Regions from separate parts of the Homo sapiens genome. Here region 1 is linked to region 2. Evidence: fine-mapped expression QTL. A gene starts in region 2. The other region holds a variant in brackets. All regions are shown on one strand. Distances are between the middles of the regions.

Region 1 (9,631 bases), 25 kb after region 2:
AGTCAATGTAATAATGTTTGTAAAAACAACCAGTATAATGCTTGTATAAGTTGGTAACTCAAACAATTTCGTTTATTAGCTACTGACGAATCATTCATAACTAGCCACTTACGGAAATCTACCACATTTAGCATTCTTTGTAGTCTAAAATTGCTATTTTAGGATAACTGACTCAAAGAGAATAGTTTTTTCTGAGACAACTACCATAGACTTTCTCCTGGGATAGTCAATAAAATTAAATCTTAAAATGTCTGTGGTCTTCAATCTTTCCTGTGTTTGAGGAGTGAGCATTTGTAGGCCAGGAGTCTTTACAGTGTTTGAGTTGACATGAATGTGAATGGCCTTTATCAGGATGAGCTTATGGGGAGCTGGACATCTTGAAAGGCTACCGTGTCCTGAAGGACAGTATGCCATTACAAGCATGAATTTGGGAATGGGGGTTCAATGGGATTAAGGAATGTTGTACAACTTTTAGAGGAAATGGCAAGAAGATATAGAAAAGCCAACTTTGTTTGTTGAAGTTGGGGACAATAAGAAAACTTTCAATTGCCTTAACTATTCAAGTAATCATCTAATCAGACAAAACAGATGTGACAGCTGCTATTTTATAGGGAATCTCTGTGATTAAGAAAAATTAACCAGGTACTCTATTAGCAGCCTAGATTTGTCAGGATGGAAGGATTTGTGTATGCAGAACAGAACCAGAAAGAACTCTTTTTAAAGAATTTTCTGATATAATGAAGATACGTTAATAGCACACTTGGCACACCTAAAATAAATAAACTACAGTTATATCCTTAGAGACTCTTGTCATTCTGACATCCATAAGTTCCTTGCTTCCTTTTCATCAAGGAGATGCTACTTTTGAAATTGTTTGGCTGAAATTTCACAGCTTCAGTGAACTTACAAGTGGTAAGTAGTAAGCTGGAATTCAGTCTACATGGTATTCCTTTTCTTTTTGATTCCTAAGATTTCTACTCACTTAACACTGTTGAGGGACCAAATTGCATCTCTTGCTGGCATGTCACTTAAGTTATACTGGAGAGACTGGAAGACTTGCTGTCAGTGTCTGCGCTTTAAACGCACAGTGTCTGCGCTTTAAAGGCAATAGTACCTGCATTATTGCATCACTATAAATAGAATTTCACGAACTGAACCTCTCTCCTATCTCCAACCCCCAATTTCTCCAGATTTAGAAAATCAGTCTCCGGCAAAAATAAATTTTCAGTGGGAAAAATGTCAAACTAGCTATTCTGCATCATCAGTCCCATGTTTGGAAGTAGCCAGATCAAGGCTGAATAGTAAGAGGCTCAGTAAGATGGAACTTTACTTGTGGTGTTTGTGATGGTAGGACTCTCCTGCTGCTGTGAACTGAGAGCAGCAGAGTTCTGTGTTCTCTGTGGGTCTCCGTATGGCTTTCTTGTGTAGGAATTTGGTTTAAATACATTTTTCCCCTAAGGACTAAAGCGAAATAGAGTTCATTATAGCCTTTTTAGCAATGAAGTTAAGCGCTGTACTTTATGAAGTACGTTAGCATCAGTAAAGAGCAAGGTTTTATCCATTTTCATTTTTCTTTCTGTTCTAGAGGTTTTTTCCTCCCTTATTTTGCTTAGTGGTGAGTTTTATTTAGCTAAATTTGACTCATTTGAGATTGAGACAAATGTTGAAAGTTGAGGGCTAACTGCTGTTTTAAAACAGGAAAAAGGAATGCAGGCACTTCACCTGTTTCCTCCTCCAATACAAATACAGCAGGTCCTCAGACAACCTCATTTCATTCAATGCCATTTCCTTATAACGTTGATGAGAAAAAACATTCCCAGCCTAGGCCACTGTCTGTGTGGAGTTTGCACATTCTCCCCATGTCTGCTTGGGTTTTCTCTGGCTACTCTAGTTTCCTCCCATATCCCAAAGGTGTGCACGTTAGGTGAATTAGTATGTCTACATTGTCCCCATTGCAGTGCATGTAGGTGTGTGTGTGAGTGCGCCCTGCCATGAAATGGTGTCCTGTCCAGGGGTGGTTCCCACCTTGTGCCCTAAGCTGCTGGGATCGGCTCGGGCCACTGCGACCCTGAATTGGAATAATTGGGTAAATAATTATCTTGTTTCTGTTCATCTTTCTTAAATGTATATATGGCTCACATTTATTTCAGTGTTAATTTTAGAAGTGTTTTGGGTCTCAGAAGTTTGGTAATGTTTTTGTGACCAGAAATGTCCTGAAGGAACTTAACTCTTGTTTATATAAATTAGCTGATGCTAAAATTAATTTTGTTTTACATCGTTTCACTTAGAGCCACAGTTTCCAAGAACCCGTAAGGACTTTACTGTATCTGAAAACCTGGTTAGCTCCTAACTGGAGTAACTGGGTTAAAGAAGCATTTGAACATTATTTGTTGAACCAGATCAAAGAACATTGCTACTTTAGGGTATTTTCTGGAACTGAAATAACTAGATCCATTTCTGTTTTTATATTCATTGTAATGGCATTGGACTTGTATAGCAAATTTTAACTTGTCTTTTGCCTGTCTGCCTTAACCTTAAGGGTAGATATTTATCATTTTCCTTAAGGAGCTGTACAATAATCTTTCATGCTTTTTGTTAGGAACCATTTACAATTCCTACTGTCTGCTACTTATCGTTGTGTTCTACTTGTTCTAGAGTTCTGTCTCCACCTGTCTTCATTTTTAGGGGTACTGTTTTTTAGGGGTACTATTTCTCTGTTTGGAAATGTGAGCGGATGGCAGTTTCTGCCTCAGCCCTCTTGCTGGGCCATTGTCTCATGTGGGTTGTCTGCTGTTCCACATTTAAGTAATAGTTATTTCAGCTTTATCAAAAGTTTGTAAGTTCCCAGTTCTTCTGGACTTCTGATTAATTCAGCCTGATTTTATTTAGGGCAAATGATTATGATCCCCTTTCCATTTTGTGAATTTTTCATATTTTACCAATAAATCTCATTGCAATTCTTTGCTTACAAGATGGCTTGAAAGATGCAAGCAATGATGGATTGCTCTTTATTGTTTTAAAATATTTATTGGCCTTAAATTGCTGAAATAATATGGTTTTTCCAACCTTTGTGTTTTTATGCATTTTTAACCCTACGTCTTTAGTGTATAATCTTCTGTGAGTCTGTGGTTTCTATAAGTGTCAGGAATTTTTCAGGTGTCTTTATTATCCTTTGAAATCATGATCTATTTGGACAATTCCATCTTTGTTTGGACTATACAGTTGACTTGAGTACCTAAGTGAAATGGAGCAGGTTAGAAAAAAGTAGTTTGTTTTATAGTAATGAGAATTACATTACAAGTCCCCTGGCATGTTCCCCTTTGACCTTTTTTGATGTTTTAATTTAAGCATCTCAAACAAGGCAAGAGTTGATCTCACCAGGCCTTGAATCCTATCCAAAATTGGATGTTAGGATAGATGACACATACATTTCTGTAATACTAATTAATATTGCCAGTTAATATTGATCACTTTCTACAACATGTCTCTGAGATATCTTGCATCTCCATGGCATCTAATGAGGTGTATTGTGAAATAGTTTCATATATTAAAAATACTGGAAAATAATATAAAAAATTAGCTGGGCGTGGTGGTGGGCACCTGTAGTCCTAGCTGCTCCGGAGGCTGAGGCAGGAGAATGGTGTGAACCCAGGAGGTGGAGGCTGCAGTGAGCCGAGATCGCGCCACTGCACTGCAGCCTGGGCGACAGAGCAAGACTCTGTCAAAAAAAAAAAAAAAAATGCTGAACTACAAAATTCATGCAGTTTGCTTATAATCACTCTGAAGCCCACCATAGGTCTACTCTGGAAGCTCAAGTCTTACTTTTTCTGTGTATTCACAAGACCAGTCTATCTGTTTAAGAATATATCTGGCGATGTAAGTCTGGAAATACGCACTTAGGTGGTTTTGTTACTTAGAAATATTTGTTTCCAAAAAGGAAAAAAAAGGTCAAACAATTTTTTTTTTTTTGAGGCGGAGTCTCAATCTGTCACCCAGGCTGGAGTGCAATGGCACAATCTTGGCTTACTGCAACCTCCACCTCCCTGTTCAAGTGATTCTCTTGCCTCAGCCTCCCAAGTAGCTGGGTCTAAAGGTGTACACCACTATGCCCGGCTTATTTTTGTATTTTTAGTAGATACAGGGTTTCACCATGTTGGCCAGGCTGATCTTGAACTCTTGACTGGTGATCCCCCCTCCTCGGTCTCCCAAAGTGCTGGGATTACAGGTGTGAGCCACCAAGCCTGGCCGATCAAACAGAATTTTTATAAAGTTGTCTTTAAAAAAAAGAAAAAAAAAGTATCCAGCTGTTAAACATTTTCAAAGTGAAGTTAATCAATACCCTGTACTTTTAGTTCCTTAATTCTTTTGATCTTTGTGCCATGATTTTTTACTATTAGTTAAGAAAGTGTAATGAACCAAAGAACAAGAAGTAGGGGGAGAAAAGAGTTGCCTGCTTCATTTGACAATAGACCATTTATCTTCTGTTATTTGCCTTTCTTAAAGTACGGAGAGTTTTTGGATTTTTTTCCCCCAGTCACTTTTTGTAGCCTGTATTTTTTGTTTATTTTATTGAATAATACAATTATTCCCTCAATATTTAATGGGAGCATTTATTTTGTCTGCTGAATTCCATACTGGTGCAAGAATTATAAAACAGCCTCTAGTCTGAAGCTGATACAGAGAGTGGTTGAACATTATTTGTCTCCTAATCTTTTTATTAAAGGGGGTTGTAACATTTGGTGGTTACTCCTTCCTTTAAAAAACAATTATATCTTCATATACAAATTAGGGTAATTAAAAAAAAACTTTCTGTGGGAATTTGGGATCTGTAACATATTAAATGGAAGAGAGTGTATTTTGTTGATATTCACAGGAGTTGGATAATTTACTTGTTGCTTTACTAGATGAGGCCAAGGTGAAGAAAATGCCCATTTGTTCTGCAATTGGCTGATTAGGCTTCCTTTAAATATAAAGCAAGTTACATAGCAGTTAAGAGTATTTTAACATTTTTTTCTTTTAATATTAAGGAATAACACATAAGTTGGAAAATTAATTAGCCGTGTCGAGTAGTATAAGAGTATTTTTCTAATTTCACTTCTGGCAGTTCTGATAGAAATCCTTCCCATGGGTGAGACTCCTTAGGAAAACGTTCTGAGTTCAGAACACTGCTTTAAACTACATTATATTTTTTTTGCTTCTCAAACCAGATCACACTATAAATCCAACCTGATTTCTAAGTAGAGTATAGATGTGGCTTGAGATAATGAATTGATTTTTGTGGGTTTTTTTTTTTTGTAATTAGCAAATATTTGCTTCGAAAACCTTTTTATAAAAAATCAGAAGTTACATTTTTTCATTAAAGAACGTTTGAAAAGTTTAGAAAAGGAGGAGAGAGACACATTACTAATCTTCCAAACCCAGTCATGGTTAATATTTTCATATATTTACATAGTTGTTCATGGTACATATAACCAACCATTTTATGTTCTGCGTACAGTTTTCCCCAAATTATTACGTAGTCTTTATGAACATAATTTTTAAGGTCTGTATAATATTCCATTGAGTGGATGTATGCAGTTTACTTAGGTATTTTTCAATTATTAGATGTTTCTCTTTTTTTCCCTATTATAAATAATGCTCTGATGAAAATCTTTGTGCAAAAACAATTTTCCCTTTCTGGTTCAGAATATTTCCTTAGAGTAAATTTCTGAAGATAAAGTTGCTGGAATAAAGATCTCAATATTTTTAAGGCTGCTGGGTTTTTTTTTTTTTACTAGATGAATACTT[T/C]TTTGTTAGTGTGAAATGTTTATATTTGGACAAGAGGGAAGGAAATCTCTGTTTGCTGACTCATGTTTTTATTTTGCACTTTAAACTGATAAGGCCACTTAGCTTTTGACATAAACTAAGGCAGGAAGTACAAAAAGGGGCAGAAAAAAAGTAGTTGTCTTGCCAAGGCCATAGTATCATGGACTCATTTGAGTTCCTTATATGAGGTAGGTTACCTGTTTGACTTGTATATTAAAAAATGCTTAACTCAGGTAAAAATTAGTCATCAGCCTGCATTTTGTTTTGTCTGGGCATGTTTATATGCAAAGTGCTGTGATCTTTCACTTTAATTTTCGTGAGTGGCCTCAAGACATTTACCACCTAACTGGCTTCTATAATGTTTGGATGCCCTTGGTTTAGATTTTTTTTTTTTTTTTTGCTCCCAGTATGAAGAAATCTTTCTGTATTGAAGATATTACCTTAGTTGTCTTTCTAAAATGTAGATCTAATAATGCTAATTCTCAGATTTAAAACCTTCCACTTGTCCATATGATAAGATTCTTCAGTCTTGCCCCTTCCTTCATATCAGCTTGTATCATCATCTCCAGCGGATTAAACCCTAGCATTTCTATCATGTGTCTGTTGGAACAAGCCATTTGGAAAAGTGGTTTAAAAATTCTGGCTCTAGAGCCAGGCAAAATGGGTTCAGATCCAGGTTCTGCCACTTATAGCTGTCTACATAACTTTGGACAAGATACTCAACTATTCTATATTTTATTTTCCTTACATGTAAAATAAAGAAAATGATAGTATTTACTTCACAGTAAATACTAAGGTATTGTTGCTAAGATTAAACTGGTTAATAGATAAACAGCAGTGAACAGTGTTTGTCAAGTAATGAACACACAAAATGTTTGCTCTATTGTTTTGCAAAATTCTACTTATCCTTTAAGTCTGATGTTTTCTCTTGGAAAAAAATGTTCTGAAATCTCTGGAATTGTTCTTTCCTTTTCCGTTTTTATATATTATTGTCTTAGTTTGTAGGCCGCTATAACAAAATACCATATAGACTGAGTGGCTTATAAACAACAGAAATTTATTTCTCAAAGTTACAGTAACTGGGAAATCCAAGATCAAGGTACCTGGATGGCCTCTTCTCTCTGTAACCTCATATGGTGGAAGGGAGGAGAGATCTCTCTGGGATCTCTTTTATGAGGGCACTAATTCCATTTATGGGAGCTCCGTCCTCATGACCTAATCACCTCCCAAAGGACTCACCTTCTAATTCTGTCACCTTTGGGGTTAGGATTTCAACATGTGAATTTAGGGAGGGGATACAAATATTCAGACCAGAGTGTTGTTGATACTTGTTTTATAGCCTTTATCACATGATATTAGAGTAAGTTAATAGTAGGTAAATGCACAGCACATGGGCCTCTTCTTCGGTTATTCTTGTGCCCATGGGCAATGGTATAATCGTATTATTTCTTCTGACTGAGTCCCTGGAAGGTCACCTAATAAAACATCTCAGCAAAGTCCTTTAGAATTAGCATGCAGGTTAGCAATTTGCTTTATGGGAGTTAGTTGTTTACACACTGGCTTTCCCAATGGATTGTGAGCTCCTCCAGTATGTTAGACATGTTTGCTTCTGTGTCTCCTGTGTCTAGCACTGTGCTAGGCATACTTAGCAGGTGCTTAATACAGCTTTGTTGAATGAATGTCGATTTGAATAGTTAAAACAAAAATCTGAAATGGTGGTTCTTATATAATACGTTGCCCAACACTTGCCTTAAATAAATACCCCCAAGTGATTTTGGGGGTATTTGTTTAAATGTATTTGTTATATATTTTAAAATAGCCCCAAGTTATTTTGATGCAAACTTAGCCATTCTGTTTAAAAATTATTGCTTAAAATGTTAAAAAGCTGTTTTTGAAGAAGAGATGGACATATAGAATATGAAGAAATACACTCCCTCTATAAATTATTCCCAGAAGCCTAGAAAAAAGTTCTTGTTCTTTTGCAAAACTAACCTTTTAGTAAAAGGAAATTATCATATCAATAGGTACACTCTGACCAAGTGTGACTTTTGATAATAGCATAGTTTTGTTTTCTCTTTCCTTTAATGTTAAATGAAAATAATACCAACTTCAAAAAAACTAGTAAATTTGGGTGAACTCTTTAAAAAGGAAAACAGCGGACACCCTGTGGCCTCCCAAATAGAGTTGACGCTCCGTATTTGGCTTTCTAAGTTCTTCAAGGAGCTAAATTATTCATCAGGCATTTAGTGAGAATCAGCTATGTGCCAGGTACTATGCCAAGTTCCAAAGGTAAGAAAATAATAAGTTGGAGTCCTACATTGTTTCCTGTAGTGAAGATGACAGATGTGTAGATTATCACAATGTAGCTATAGACATGCACCGTTTGCCATGACAGCTATTTATAATAATTATAATTTTTAATTTCTGAGGCTAACGATTTCCCCATTCTGATCCATTTATTGGTAATTTGTGCCTTCTCTTTTTTATTTATCAGTTTTGCTAGGGATTTATCCAATTTTATTAGTATTTTCAAAGAATCAACTTTGATTTTATAGGTTTTCTTTAGTATGCTTTAAATTTCTGCTTTCATTTTCTTCTACTTTCTTTGGGTTTATTTTTCCTTTTAAAAAATCTTTGGCGGGTATTAGAGTGTTAGTTTTCAGCTTTTTTCCTTTTCTAATATATGCATTTAAGACTATAAATTTCCCTCTGTGCCTTGAGCCACATCCTGCATTTTTGATGTGATATTTTTACAATCATTCAGTTAAAAATATTTTCTATTTCCTCTATAATTTCTTCTTTGACCTTTGGGTTATTTTAAAGTTTGGTTCTTTTCAATAACAATGTTTTTATTGATTTAGTTATACTAAAATCAAAGAATATGTTCTATATGATTTTAGTATTTTGATACAGATTGAGATTTGCTTTGTTATTCATTATATGGTCAATTTCAGTAAGTATTCCTTGCGTATTTGAAAGTGTTATGAATTGTACAGTTGTTGAGTGCTGTGATAATATGTATATGAATTGGATCAAGTTTTTAAACAATTTTTTTCTGTATCTATTGATTTTTGTTTGCTTGTTTTATCATTTATTATGTTAATCTCCCACTAGGATTGTGGGTTTGCCTGTCATTGTAATTGTTAGTCTTTTGCTTTATGAATTTGAGACTGTTATTATTTACATAAAATTTGGAATTTAAAAACTACATGGTGGCTCAACTCATCACTATAAAATGTCCTTTTTTTCTTTTTTGTCTTTAAAAATCTCTGGTGATACCTCTTACTTTTGAAGTCTGTTTTATCTGAATGGATAGCTATGCCAGCTTTTTGGGTGGAATATGCATAGTATATATTTTTCCACTCTCTTGCTTTCAATACTGTGTTCTTATATTTAATGTGTGTCTCTTTTAAGTACAATATGGTTAAATAATGTTCCCCACAACTCTCTTAGTTGTCATATTTTAGTCATTTATATTTAAGTAATTGCTTATACTTTGGGATTATATCTAAATCTTACTATTTTCTGTTTGTCTCATCTGTTGTCTCCTTTTCATATGTTTTGCATTAATCATTTTTAAAATTTTTATTTGATTTTTAGAGACGCTCTCACTCTGTCACTCAGGTTGGAGTGCAGTGGCACAATCATAACACCTATCATAACTCCTAGGCTCAAGCAGTCCTCCTGCCTCTGCCCCCTGAGTGGCTGAGACTGCAGGCACATGCCACCTTGCTGGACTACTTTTTTACTTTTTGTAGAGATAGGGTCTTCCTGTGCTGCCCAGGCTACTCTGGAACTCCTCAAGCTATCCTTCTACCTTGGCTTC
Region 2 (9,631 bases):
GGCTAATTTTTTTTTTTTTTTGTATTTTTAGTAGAGATGGAGTTTCACCATGCTGGCCAGACTGGTTTTGAACTCCTGACCTCGTGATCCATCCACCTCGGTCTCCCAAAGTGCTGGGATTACAGGTGTGAGCCACCACGTCTGGCCGTGTATTTATTTATTATCTGTCTTCCTTAATGAGGGCAGGGATTTTTTTCTGCTTGCCACCATATCCCCTGCTAGAACAGTGCTTCACTTACTCATTCATTCAACAGGTATTTAATATGCTCCTGTTAAATACCAGGCACTGCTCAGGTGCTGAGATTATAGCAATGAACACAGAAGACCAAAAATCCTGCTCTTTTGGCTAAATAATACGGAGACATTTGAGTGAAGACTTGAGGGAGATGAAGGAGTGAGCCATGTGGACATCTGTGGGAAGAGCTGTCCAGGGAGTGCTATGGTTTGAATGCATTCCCCAAAGTTTATATATTGTAAACTTAATCCCCAGCGCAACAGTGTTGAGAGGTGAGAACTTCAAGAGGTGATTATGTCATGAGGACTGTTAAATTAAGTTTAGGCTAAAGCTGCCTCCATATATATATATATACGTATATATACATATGTACATATGTATATACATATATATACACACACATATATATATATATATATATATTTTTTTTTTTTTTTTTTTGAGACGGAGTTTTGCTCTTGTTGCCCAGGCTGGAGTACAATGGCATGATATTGGCTCACCGCAACCTCCGCTTGCCGGGTTCAACTGATTCTCCTGCCTCAGTCTCCCGAGTAGCTGGGATTACAGGCGTGAGCTACCACGCCCGGCCCATACATATTTTAAGTTAGGCCTAAAGGTTTCTCTGTACACAGCAAACTGTAACCTAACTGGATATGCAAACAGACTGTAGCCAACTCTTGTACCAATCACAGAGTTTTGGTCAATCACAGGCAGCCAACTGTTCAAACTGTGTTAAAATAAAGCAAATATTTAGCTCTAACCAATCCAGTTTTTTCTGTACCTCACTCCATTTTCTGTCACTTTTCTTTCTCTGCCCATAAACATCATCTGACCCTGTGGCAGCCCCAGAGTTGCTCTGAAACTATTCTGGTTCTGGGGGCTGCTCAGTTCTCAAATTGCTCTTTGCTCAATTAAACTCTGTTAAATTTAATTTGCCTAAAGTTTTTCTTTTAACAGGGATCTGTCCTCATGAATGGATTAATGGCATTATGGGAGTGCGGTTTGGTATCTCAGGAGGGGATTGCTGATATAAGCATGAGTTTGGCCCTTTTCTACCCTTCCTCTCATGTTCTCTCTCTTGCTATGTGATGCCTTCTGCTATGTTGTGATGAAGGAAGAAGGCCCTCACCAGATGCAGCCCCTTGATTTTGGATTTCTCAGCCCCCAGAACCATGAGCTAAATTAACTTTTATTGTGTATAAACTGCCCAGCTGGTGGTTGTATTGGTCCATTTTCATACTGCTATGAAGAAATACCCAAGACTGGGTAATTTATAAAGAAAACGTGGTTTAGGGCTGGGTACGGTGGCTCACGCCTGTAATCCCAGCACTTTGAGAGGCCAAGGCAGGTGGATCACCTGAGCTCAGGAGTTTGAGACCAGCCTGGCTAACACCACAAAACCCCGTCTCTACTAAAAAATACAAAAAAAGATTAGCCAGGCGTGGTGGTGCATGCCTGTAGTCCTAGCTACTTGGGAGGCCAAGGCAGGAGAATTGCTTGAACCCTGGAGGCAGAGGTTGCAGTGAGCTGAGGTTGCATCACTGCATTCCAGCCTGGGTGACAGAGTGAGATTCTGTCTCAAAAAAAAAAGGTTTAATGGACTCACAGTTTTACACGGCTGGGGAAGCCTCACAATCATGGCAGAAGGTGAAGGAGGAGCAAAGGCACATCTTACGTGGCAGCAGGCAAGAGGGCGTGTGCAGGGAAACTGCCCTTTATAAAACCGTCAGATTCTCATGAGACTTATTCACAATCACGAGAACAGCATGGGAAGAACCCACCCCCATGATTCGATTACCTCCCACCAGGTCCCTTCTATGACACATGGAGGTTATGGGAGCTACAATTCAAGATGAGATTTGGGTGGGGATACATAGCCAAACTCTATCAGTGGTATTCTATTACAGCAACACAAAATGAACTCAGAAAGGGAGGGAACAGCTAGCACATAGATACTGAGGTGAGAATGTGCCCAGATTGTTCCAGAAGAGTGAGGATGCCAGTGTGACTTGGGGAAGTGAGCAAGAGGAAGAGTAGAAGTGCAGGTCAGAGTGCTAAAGGAGGGGAAGGAAAGATTATGTAGAGTCTTGTGCTTATTATGGGAACTTTTATTCTGAGTGAAATGAGGACCCAAGGGAGGATTTTTTAAAAATTTAATAAAATGATATTAATATACAGTCCATATTTAGGTTTTTATAATGGTCTCATCAATGTCCTTTTAAAAAGAATATCCAAATTTTTATTATCATTTAAGGAAATAATTTGCACAATGGGCAAAATCAAATTTTATTGCATACATAATAATATTAATAGTTATCATTTAAGACTACTAGGACTGCACTAAGAAAGGCCATCTAGGCTGGGCGCGGTGGGTCATGCCTGTAATCCCAGAACTTTGAGAGGCTGAGACGGGTGGATCACTTGAGGCCAGGAGTTTGAGACCAGCCTGGCCAAAATGGTGAAACCCCGTCTCTACTTAGATGGGCGTGGTGGTGTGTATCTGTAGTCCCAGCTACTCGAGAGGTTGAGGCAAGAGAATTGCTTGAACCCGGGAGGCAGAGGTTGCAGTAAGCCGAGATCGTGCCATTGCACTCCAGCCTGGGCGACCGAGCGAGACTCCGTCTCAAAATTAAATAAATGCCATTTTTGATTTTTTTAAAAATTAACGACTTTAAAATGACAGTTTATAGCTCCTCCTCCCCATTCAGGATCCAATCAAGGTCATATACTGCATTTCATTGTCATGCTTTTTTTTTAATAGCTTGAGGTAAAATTCACATACCAAATGATTGACCCATTTAAAGTGTGCAATTTAATGGCTTTTGGTATATGCACAGAGTTGTGCAACCATCACCAGAAACTAGTTTTAGAACAATTTTGTCACCCCATAACCTTTAGCTGTCACTCCCCAGGTTCCTCATTTCCCCAACCCTATGCAAACCACCAATCTACTTTCTGTCTCCATAGCCTTGCCTACTCTGAGCATTTCACATATGTGGAAGAATACAATGTGTGGTCTGTCTTCTTTCCCTTCACGTTTTGAAAGGTTATCCATGTAGCATGCATCAGTATCAGTACTTCATTCCTTTTTATGGCTGAATAATGTTCTCTTGTATGGGATACTTTATACTATTTATCAAGGGAGGGTTTTCAACAGAGGAGTGGCCTGATCCGAGTGGCATTTAACAAGGTTCACTTTCCTGTTGTTCTAAGGAGCAGAGAATGATCAACTGCGTCAAACGCTGCTTTTAGGGAAAATAAGATGAGGCCCACGAATTGACCAGTAAGTGCTCAAATAGGTTAAGGGAAAAAGGAATTTAATTAGAAGACATATTCTGATATACATTGCTGGGAGTGATTTTTTTTTTTTTTTTTTTGCTTCATGTGAAATTTATTCCTCAAAAAAAAATCATTTTTTCTAAACGTAACTCAACATTATAGTAATTATGCAAGATTTTATGCAGCTTCAAGAGTTAGCCAAGAGAAAAGTTGACTCTTGCAAGAAGATATTTTCAATGTCTATGCAGATCAGGTAGGTAAGAGTTAAGTGCGGGGGAGTTGGCATCATCTAAAAGACTGTAGAAATTGGACCAAAAATGTGGAGTTCTAAAGCAGTATCTCCTTATGGCATGCCATTATTTGGAGCAACAAGGTTACCTACTCGAATCACTGGATCCTGAGTTGACACAAAACGCATCTGTTGACTCAGGGTTTGTATAACCACGTGCAGTATTTACTAGGCTATCCAATTCTGGGTACGTACAACTTCTGGGGCCTGCAAATTATTGGAGAGTGAGTGAGGGGCAACGAAAGATAGACATAAAAGGGCGCGTCTCGAAAGGTAACTGTCAACATGCACTCCACGTTTATAGAACGATTCAGTGGGCGCGGTGGAAGCGTTAATGAACATTTCAGAAAATAAACATATGGAACATCGAAATTCACTTGCAGATAATGGACTAAGTCCGCTCCACCGGGACTAAAAAGGCAGGGTTAGGAAAGCCTGAACGCCGCCACACTGTTTTTTCTCCAGGAAGAAACGGGGCGTGGGGCTGCCGGTAGAAGGGGGTGGCTCCGGCCGCTCCCCCGCGCCGTCCTCCGGCCCCGGCCGCGCTGCGCTCACGCCGGCCGGGCCGGGAATTTGGAGAGGATCCCTGGTCGCGCGGCAGCGGCGGCGGCGCGCGGGTGAGCGGGTGAGCGTGTGAGCGGGCGGGCGGGCAGGCGAGTGCGCCGGGTATTGGCAGCTGAGGAGTGGAGGCTGGGCAGCTCCGACTCCCTGACGCCAGCGCGACCAGATCAATCCAGGCTCCAGGAGAAAGCAGGCGGGCGGGCGGAGAAAGGAGAGGCCGAGCGGCTCAACCCGGGCCGAGGCTCGGGGAGCGGAGAGTGGCGCAGCGCCCGGCCGTCCGGACCCGGGCCGCGAGACCCCGCTCGCCCGGCCACTCGTGCTCCCACACGGACGGGCGCGCCGCCAACCCGGTAAAACGAAACAGACCCGAACCGAACTTTCCCTTCATGCCGCGTCCCAGCCCTCCCCTCGGCGCCCCGGGCTTTCCAGCGCCGCCGCCGCCGTCTCTGCACGCGTGGGGCCGCCGCGGTCGTGCTGGGCTGGGGGCGCGGGCAGCGGCGGGAAGGGGGCTCTTTCTGCGCGGGGCGGGCCGCGACCCCCCCCCCCCATGATGGCGCCTCCCGTCTGCTCGGAGGAGCGAACCTGCTACCACGTCTTCTCGCGCCCAGCCCGCCGGGCTCCCCTGGTGTCTTTGTTGGGTCTTCTGCTGTGGGAAGCCCAGTTCCCGGGCCCCCGAGCCTCGGCTCCCGGGCCTGACCGCGCTGGGATCTCCCCGGCCGCGCTCCCCTTCCGCGCGCTCCTCACATCTCTCCCGTGCTGCCGCCGGGCCGAGGCCCGTTCGCGTGGCCCGCGGACCCATTGTGTCCCCCGCGCCGGCGGGGCGACCCCTGCGGGAGCTGGAGGACGACCGCTGGCGCTGCTCTCCAAGGCGCCTGGTGGAGCGGGTCTCGCGGGCGGGGGACCCCGGCGCCCCGGGCCCCTCCACATCCCGCACGGGTTTTCTTCTCGGCCCCAGCAAGCCTCTTTGGGGTCGAGGTCAAGGAAAGTTCGCACCGAGATCCCCTCTAATTTATTCAAAGGTTTGGCGGCGGCGCGTAATTTTTTCCCCCTCTTCCGCCTACACCCGCTGCGTCTCCTGGTGTCTCGTTCCTTTCCCTTTACCGGAGTCGATTGCCTCACTGCATGTGTATTCGTGAGTTCGCGGTTGAACAACTGTTCCTTTACTCTGCTCCCTGTCTTTGTTAGTGTTTCTCGGGGTTGTTTCTGTAGGAAGGTGGGGGTGGTGGGCGTGAGAGACAGATGTGGGCTTGTTTTTCTAGTTGCTGAAACTGTATGAAGGCTTTAAAGGGAGAACGTTTTCTTGATGTGCTTTAGGAGGGGAGGAGGAACAAATGCCTGCCAGATCTCACAGCTACAGTAGCTGAGCTTTTGTTTATTTTGAAGAGCATGCAATTTTTAAATACACGGTGCAAGATAACCAGTAAAGGCGCGTTCCTTCTGAAAATTGAGGCCGGTCTCAGAACCATCTCCTGAGAAAGCATCCTTTTCGTGAGTGCTGAGACAACTGTCCTTTTTCTCTGCCCTCCCCCCTCTTTTCTTTCCATTGTATCTGAAGTTTCAAAGTACGTGGAATGATACAGAAGTTGCATGATTTCTGTTATTTCTTCCTGTTGCTGAAACTCTCAGCCGCTAAATCTCAGAATGCCTCTATTTCAGAACATCTCTGGGTCTAATTGCCTGTTGTGGATAACTTGCCCACACCTCAGTAACACAATGAGAAAACTGTTCCCTGCCCATGTTGATTTTTCAAATTGTTTGTAATTACTTTAAATTGTATTGAAGGTAGGTGGACCGTGTTAAAAAAGAATCGGAACAGAAGTGTTCACTGCCCCAGCATTTTCAATTGGTATAAATATTGTTGCATCAGTGTTATTCTGATGTAGGTGCCAGATCTAAATATGCTGTACTGATTAAAGTGTTTGTTCTGCCCTCTCCCACTCTCTTTCCCATTTGCAATTATTTGCTATTTCTGTGCAGGTGGTGTATCATTGGTGTAATACTGCAGTTCTTAGGAAGGTGTAGCTAGGGTCGTGAGAGATGATTTTTCTGGAGGTGGGTGATGCCAGAGCCTCTAGAGGATCCAGGCAGGATCGAGTTTCTTCTGAGGGTAGGGATTTGTCCTTGATTTAGTTTTGACCCCTACAACCATAGGTATGTAACCAAATACATTTTACCTCTTGCAGTATCCTTTGGTTTCGTATCCTTGAAGAGCTGATGACCTTTGTGTTTTAGAGAAATGACAATTTTTAGGCAATTAAAGACATTGGCCTCTTACACTTCTTGGAATTTTATGTTATTTTTACTAAGTTCATTAAGGCATTAAGAGGAAGTTGTCACATTTTCTCAACTACGTTTATTACATTTATTAGTTAAAAACTAAATTTCACTTTGTAATTTTGATTTCTAGCAATTCTGGGTTAAATATTAAATCTAATAACCTAGTAGATTGGAAAAAGAAGTAGCTTGGGTATAGTAATTAGACTAGCATGTTTAAGCTGCAGTAGCCTACATAATCAAGGCCAAGTGTGTGTGTATAAAAGATCTCATTTGTGTAGTCTTACAAGGCTAATGGAGGCATCACTGAGGCTTTATAAATAATGTAAGTTGGGTATAATGTAGAGTCTCCAGAGACGGCAGAGAAAGCATCATTACCAGCCTTTTCAACCTGCTTGAGATCTTAAATTGATTTACAGCACTGAACTGGTGCAAAATGATACATCAGGATGACATGGGGTCAGCCTGTAAAAGTCTATGATGTCAGCCTATTAGTTCAGTCATCATAATTAAACCATATTACAGGGGTAGCTAAGCAGGAGTCTGGCGTTATACTTCAGATATGGGTGGTACATGGGTTTTGTTTATAGTGGAAAGGCTGAGATGGCCAGGGATACCAGTGTGTGTGAAAGAGGGAAAAGGCTTACAGAACTATGAATTTCTGTAGAAAAATTTAAGATAAATGCAGAGATATTCAATCTGAATTGTATAAGTAGCTTTTCATTTGGTAGAGGAGAAACAGATGCTTTAGGGATGCTGATAAGGACCTTTGCAGCTCTGATATGTGTACTGAATGCTTCATGTGAGTTTGAATTTAACTTGGCCTTAGGGACCTTATAAAATATCAGTGGACCACATACTTAACTTTGATCCTTTTATTACCCCTGAATTTTCACTGTATTGATATCTACTGACATGTTATTTCTTTAACTAGTCAAACTTACCAGGCCTATACCAGAAACAAAGATATTTGAATTGAACATATAAACAGTTCAGGAAAAGAAGATCCTTATTTTGCTTAAGTTTCTGACAATCCTTATTTAGCTTATGGATTATCTAGGGCTCTGCTATCCTAGCCATAGTCACACGTAGCTTTTTTTGAAATTTTATTATTCTATTTTTTTGAGACAGGGTCTCTCTGTGTTACCCAGGCTGGAGTGCAGTGGCACGATCATGGCTCACTGCAGCCTCGACCTCCCAGGCCCAGGCAGTCCTCCCACTTCAGCCTCCCAAGTTGCTGGGACTACAGGCACTGCCACCATGTCTGCCTGACTAATTTGTTTTTGTATTTCTTGTAGAGACAGGGTTTCGTCATGTTGCCCAGGCTGGTCTTGAACTCCTGGGCTCAAGCTGTTCTCCCGCCTCGGCCTCCCAAAGTGTTGGGGTTACAGGTGTGAGCCACTGCACTCGGCTACTTATAGCTATTTAAGTTTAAATTAAAATTAAATAAAAATTCGTTTTCTCAGCAGTAGCCGCATTTCAAGTGCTTAGTAGCTGCTTGTGGTTAGTGGCTGCCATACTGGACAGCGTGTATATAGAATAGTTCCATCATCACAGGAGGTTCTGCTAGCCATTGCTGCCCCAGGACCTTTACCTCTTCTCACTTGTTAACTCTACTAATGATTTGTGGAGTCAAAGATGGAAAGACATATATAAACTAATTTTATCACTAACTAGCTGTTCTTTTTAAAATAAAACACAATTTGGAAGGGACAGTTGAAGCTGCTGGATAAAAGGAGTTTGACTTTTCTGTAGATCTTATTTATTATTAGTGTCATCGATTCTAATTTGGTTTAGAGCCTTAGAGAGAAGAAATAATTGTAGCTAACCCTTTTTTCTGAATTTTTACTGTATGTATGCCAGGCATTGTTTATAATACCCATATCTCATTTAAGCCTCAAAACTTCCATAAGTACTATTGTTGTCACATTTTACAGGTAAAGAAACTGAGGACAGAATGATTCAGTATCTTGCTTCAGGAGGTACAGTGAATGATTATGATTTCTAATCTTACCTGGGATATGATCGAGGCAGTCCAACTCTAGAAACTCCATCTTAACTATGTTTTTTGGTCTTTCGTTCAGAAGACCCAAATCATCATTGTTCTGCTGTGCTTTACTATGCCAGTATAGACATGACTTGGCTTGTGTATTTTGTAGGTCTTTAAATAAATTTACCTTCTATTGTGCCTTTCTGGGCTATCTTCTGTCGTTCTTTTGTAAGTGTTTAAGAAAGGAAAAATAATGCTCATCTAAGCAGCACATAATTTGAAGAATAAATCTGGCATGAAAATAATGCATTTCAAAGCCAAATTAGTTTTATCTCTGCTTTTCTGCATAATTCTTGTCACTTTCCTCTTGCATTTTCTTACATAATCACAAACTGATATTAAGTTAGGAGGAAAGTTGTAGTAATTCAGTTTGTCTGTCTTACCAAAATTAGTCTATCTTCCCTGAGCTGTTAAACACTGTAAGAATAGTAATTGCAAATTCATTGGGGATTTTTAAAAAAACATTCAACATCTATTTTTGTAAATGTTTTACAAGGTCAGGGCTGTTTAAGAATCGATGAAACTATGGATCTTGTATCTTCTTATTCCCACCTTCCTATCCCAAAATGCTTATATGTCATGGTGAGTTAATGTGTACACTTAACTATCCAAATCTCATGGTCTTTCGGGTGAAATATGTCCATGGGACTGCCAAGTGCTTTCATAAACATTAAGATTTGTAATTTCCTTTACAGAGAATAGAGATACTTAGTATTAAAAGTTGCTTTAAAGATTTTCTAATCTGGTTGGTTCATATCAAGGTGAACAGTCTGAAGTCCAGAGAAGGTAACTGACATCCAAAGTTACCTGTCTAGTGATTGGAAAAGGGAAAGCCAAGATCTGGACTCCTCTTGGCATTAAGTGCCCTTTTGTTTTCAGGTTTTTTTTCTCCCTACCACGCTCACGATATTTCTGAGGCTTTGGTGTAAGCATATCCAGTGTA

What was found.
Region 1: its variant is fine-mapped to the expression of SMAD1 in whole blood (INTERVAL, PIP 0.93).

What each region holds. Positions count from the first base shown.
Region 1 is chr4:145,501,894-145,511,524 of GRCh38, forward strand. All of the region lies in intron 1 of SMAD1 (SMAD family member 1), which reads left to right. It overlaps SMAD1-AS2 (SMAD1 antisense RNA 2), which reads right to left and starts at 1,087. Exons shown (of 2, transcript NR_108077.1): 1 at 983-1,087. RefSeq lists a silencer at 5,781-5,981. The variant T/C (reference allele first, on the strand shown) is at 5,788.
Region 2 is chr4:145,477,325-145,486,955 of GRCh38, forward strand. SMAD1 (SMAD family member 1) reads left to right here and starts at 4,529. Exons shown (of 7, transcript NM_005900.3): 1 at 4,529-4,714. RefSeq lists silencers at 4,298-4,427, 4,598-4,757, 5,098-5,157, 5,248-5,347.